Linked DNA regions of Homo sapiens: region 1 is linked to region 2. The links come from fine-mapping of genetic effects on gene expression. Tissue or cell type: whole blood. Region 2 holds a variant in brackets; the other region holds the start of a gene. All regions are shown on one strand. Distances are from middle to middle.

The links. PIP is the estimated chance that this variant, and not a neighbour inherited with it, causes the effect.
Region 1: it holds the start of SRGAP3, and the variant in region 2 is fine-mapped to the expression of SRGAP3 in whole blood (TOPMed, PIP above 0.99).

Annotation. Positions count from the first base shown.
Region 1 is chr3:9,248,348-9,250,947 of GRCh38, forward strand. SRGAP3 (SLIT-ROBO Rho GTPase activating protein 3) reads right to left here and starts at 1,299. Exons shown (of 22, transcript NM_014850.4): 1 at 538-1,299. The coding sequence starts at 604. It overlaps SRGAP3-AS4 (SRGAP3 antisense RNA 4), which reads left to right and starts at 1,409. Exons shown (of 3, transcript NR_146969.1): 1 at 1,409-1,474. RefSeq lists an enhancer at 1,078-1,317.
Region 2 is chr3:9,034,114-9,036,713 of GRCh38, forward strand. The region is part of intron 11 of SRGAP3 (SLIT-ROBO Rho GTPase activating protein 3); the gene reads right to left. Among named protein-coding and RNA genes, the nearest start is that of RAD18, 72 kb to the left of the region's middle. The variant T/C (reference allele first, on the strand shown) is at 1,653.

The DNA.
Region 1 (2,600 bases), 210 kb after region 2:
CCCAGAGACACCGACAAAGAAGTGCCGCCCAGGGATGCTGCCTCGCTGTGCACATGCATGTGAATTCCGGCCCAGAGAAAGAGGCGGAGGCAAAACCACCACCACCAACAGAAACCAAAAAGGGGGAGGAAAAAAAGAGCAGATGGTAAAAAAATACCCCAATATTAAAGGGCTTTTACCATGGCAGGGAAGGGGTGGAGGTAGTGACTATCAAAATGGCCTTAGAGTGACATGTCACCGCCAAGATGATGGGGTATCAGCGACACTCCTAAAGTCAGGCATAGGATCCTCCTCACACACCTGCAATGCAGAGACTGCTGCCCATTCCATAATCCACACTCCCAGCCCCAGCGCTATCTGCAGTTGAAACCAGTCCGGACTTGTGCGGCTGCCACTGTTACTCCTCACAAAAAGATTATTGATGCATAACATTTCATAATGGCAGAGAGGAAAACGGGGGGCAGCGGGGGATGGGAACCAGAACAAGAGAAAAACGAAAGGGGAGGAGAAGGAAAACTCTCCCAGCCCGCATCTCACCTTTTATTTGGGCTTCATATTCAGCAATGATCTCTTTGTCTTTCTTGAACTTAGTTTGAGATGACATCTTCTGACGTGGCCAAAGGAACTGACAGGCTGTTTGATTTATTTCTCCTTTTCTTTTCGAGTCCTCTCTCAAGCCCTGGTAATCACACAGCTCTGGTCGATTTCACAGGTTTAGGGACTAATCTCTTTCACTTGGCTGCAGAGCAGGGAGAAAAATCCTTCTCCTTCTGGAAGGAAAAATCTCTTTACTTGCCGAGAAATGGCTCTAGTAGCTTGCCCTGGTCAGCTCCTCTTGCAAAAGAAGAATCACCCTAGGAGCACAGTAACCTGCCCCAGATTTTCAAAGATTTTTCTTCCAAAAATAATAATAATAGTAATAACCAAGCGCACTCACACACACATGCACACGTACACACACTCACGCATGCACAGGCACACTCACCGGGACACGCACACAGTTGTGCTGTGCACACAGGCATACACACACACACCCTCACACGCACACACACTCGCTGGATCACTCACACACACACATCCACGAGAGGCGCGGCGCCTCTTTGGTCGTGCAGCCAGCCCCTGGCTTGCTTTTGAAGGCTCTGCTAAGTCGATGGTCAGGTTGCCAAAGGGCCGGTCATCTCGCATCCTCCCTCCCTTCGGTGCCTCTGGTCTGATGTCCAGTGAGGATCAAAGCCAGGAGAGCGAGATGGAAGTTTTCCTGCTGCAACGCTTAAGCTCCGGTGAACACAAGGCTGGACTGCTCGCCCTGCAGGGCTGGCTGAGCTCTCCCCCACTGCTCACGTCACTAGACTCCGCCTCCCGGATTTTATAACAACTGACACATTGTAGCCTACAGGAGAGCAGAACTCACTGCAAGCAAAAAGGGGAAGAAACGCTCACAAAAGGGAAGGCAGCAGGAAAAGTAATCGGGTTGGTAAGTCTTGAGAGGCTTCTGCAAACTCCAAACATTAGCACTTGGGTTAGGGATTTTTCTTCCAAAAACTTAAGATCCTCCCTTTTTTTGCACTGTGCAATTTAATTCAGTTTCTGGAATCAACAGCTATATGATGGTTTGTCACTCTACTGGGATAGTCTAGCAGAGGGCCTGACCCATGTAGGGAAAAGCATCAATATTTGTTGAGCAGTTACTTGGTGGCAGAGACGATGCGAGGAGTTAAAGGCATGCAGCTTAGCAAAGCCACGCAGAGCAGGCACACTGGAGGCAGAACAGCTGGGTGGGTCATTGGCTTGTGGGGCTCTGGGCAAATTCATAAGTCAGACTGAGCCTCAGTTTCCTAGATAGTAAAATCAGCTCTCTTTGGAGGCTATGTTATTCATTCTTTCAACAGATATTTACTGAATGCTTACTATAGGTCTAGCACCGTTCTGGGTACAGGGATACAGCAATGATCAGAACTGGCACACACAAAAATCCCTGACCTTCTGAAGCTCCCGGGGCTCCACATCACACAACTCCAGCAGTTTCCACCATTCATGCTAATATTCTTAGTAAAAAGCACCCCTGGAGTAGAAAGCATTGTGAATGGTGCCCCCTGGAGTTGTACGAGGCAAGAGGCCCTGGGAGAGGAAGACCAAAAATAAGCACAGTAAGTATATTATATAATATCATACAAAATGTAAAGTGCTATGGGAAAAAATATTGCAGGGTAAGGAACATCGGGAATGAGAGGAGCTCTTGAAAAGATCAAAGAAAAATGCAAAGCTAAGCTTAGCACAGTCTCTGGTGCATAGCAAGCACTCAATAAACAGTAGCAACTGTTATTACCCTTTTATATCCCCCAACAACCTAACAACATAGGTATAAGCACCACTCTTTCACAGACAAAGGAGCAGAGGCTCAGATATGGGAAGTGACTTACCCAAGGTCACCAGCCTTCCAACCCAGGCTCAAAGTCTCCTGCATTCTACAAGGGAGACCAAACCCATTTCATGTGGAATTAAGGTAGAATAAGATTCATTCTGTAAAAACTGAGTCAAGCACTAAAGAGTCGCTGATCACTGGAATTTCATATGCTAAGATTGTCACTAATGTGTATTGG
Region 2 (2,600 bases):
AATTGCTCACCATGCATATACCTGTGTTGGCTTATTTGCTCATTTCACCACACAAGTTGGCCTGACTCAATGGTGCCAGCCTTCTGGGGCAAAGGCCTTTTGAAGGTTAAGAAGAGGGCCCCTAACCAAGAGAGGCAGTTCATTTTCAAATGGCTTGGTTCAAAATTTGGGTAGCAACAAGTGGGGACTCAGCCAGGCACAGATAATGTCCACACATGACAAGCAAAGACCTGGTCCCCCAAGTCTTGATTGATTTCTGTGAGCGGGCAAGAAATCTTCCAGACTATGCAGCCAATCAGGATTAATGAGATTCATGCTGCCTCTGCTGACTGGGCTTGTGGTACCTGTCTCCTTCGGTAAGCCAGCCATCCCCAGGGACCTCTAACCAACTTCTCCTAGGTGTTTGAGTATTGAGCAAATGCTGCTAGCTCCAGTACATGCATGGGCAAAAACCAGGTGAATCCAAATATCATGCCACCCAAACAATGGAAACAAAATAACAGCACAGATCAAAATTTTGAAAAGAAACAACAGGCAAGATTCTTTCAAGCCCATCTTGGATCTATGTCAATTTGGTTAGCTAAGTCCATGTCATTTATTTTTCAAAAATTACTTATTTTTTTTTGAGGATGTATGTATGTGGGGTGGGATTTCTTACAAGAGCTGCTCTTAAATTTTCAAATACCAAAGGCAAAAGAGAGTGTCAAAAATGTGACACAAGGCCAAAGGTTTTAAGTTTGGGGATTAGAAATAACTTGATGATAGCAACATTGTCACCCTGTTTTCATAGTGTTTGGCTTGTTTTTGAACATTCCCAGATCATTTCCTTATCACATTGCATGACAACCTCACAACAACCCTGTGAGGCTGGGAAAGAATATTCAATTCACTTTACATACAAGGCCAGTGAGCCCACAAAAGATGAAGAAACTTGCCTAAGGTCACACAAATAAAATGTGATTGAGGCTGGTGGTAAAATTCAGCTCTTCCTACTCTCAAGGATCTAGTGTGAGTATGAAAGTGATTTTATCATAGAACATCCAGAAGTAACATTAAATTATCTGTTAAATTCTCATGGCCAGGAAGAGCGGAGACTCTAAAAGCAGGTGTTGGACACTCAATATCAAAAAACCTACGGTGCCCAACTGGAGGGTTTCCTTAAAAGAAAGTCCTAAGTGTTTTTTGTTTTTTCTTAAATTCTACAAAGTGGAAAAAAGGGGAAATAGCATATGTTTTCCCATTTTTCCTGCCCAATCCAGAAAGCAAAGGACTGTGTGAATCACACGAGGATTTCTTTCTTTGTGTGGTGCTCTGTGCACTGTCTGGAATCTCTGACAAGGAAACGTAGCTATCCCAACTTTGCACAATATCAAATCTATATCGACTTACTGAAGTGCTGGGTGGGGCACAAAGTGGGGAGCAGGGGGGCAGCTCGGCCAAGGAAAGTGGGGCAGCCTAAGCCTTCCATCTCTTCTGCTGCTCAGATGCAGAGCAAAAAGGAAAGAAAGAAAGAAAGAGAGGCAGGGAAAACAGGAACAGAGAAAGCCACAGAGAGGAAGAAAGAGAAACCAGAGACCAATGTCCCCTTTCTGCCTTTTAATCAAGATGAAAATTAACACACGTTGGCAACACAGGAAATAGCCTCAAAATTA[T/C]CCTGCAACTAAAGGGATGTGATGAAAAATTCCCCTAGATAACCTAATAGACTTGGAGGTCAACATCCCAAATGGTGGCAATGCTGTAGGGCAATGCCAGTCGGGCCCTTGGAGGCTATTCATGGGCTGTGTACTGCGTTGCATCTGCCTGAACAAGATCTCAAGTGATTTCACCTCTAATCCAGACCACGAGGGCATGTCAACCTGGGTAAGGGGAGCCAGACATTCATTTGAATCACAATAATCAAACCTTATATTTGCATCTTGCTTTGACATTTGCAATACGCTTTTAAACTTAAGTGCATTATCACATCTGGCCATCCTGAATTACAGGGTTATTATGAATTTGGTCTATTCTAAGATAAGGTTCTGAAGTGTGAGAAAAATATAACATGCTGCAGCCCATATGCAACACCAGTTCCTCTATACAAGGTCAACAGCAACTTAGCTGAGGGGATCCTGCTCAAATAACCATCCAGAAATGATATCCACCTCGTGTGGGAGTCCATGGAAGATACAGAGAGAGCCATAGGACAGAGACATTGTTAGCAACAATTTCCACAAGTTAAATCATGATTTTGGAGGTAAGGGGAGACTTTTAGTTTACTAACAAAGTTGTCTTTGACCTTGACCAGGAACCAGAGTACACAGGGCTATGTCTGCAATTGAACGCAGGGTAGCTGCAGTTGAATGCAGGGTGTCTAAGTGGGAGGTCTGATAAACTCAGCTTGGATTTCCCAGGCCCTAGGTCAAGGAGGGTGTGGAAGACAACACTTCAGAGGGCTTTATTTAAAACACAAAACAAAACAAAACAAAACAAAACAAAACACACAAACCCTCAACTTTCCCCTGAGGGAAGACCCTGAGACCTGGCCAAGTGTTTGATTACAGATCTCCTCTCCCACACTCTGCTGGAACAAACTTCTCTGCGTGAGTTCTAGGAATTAG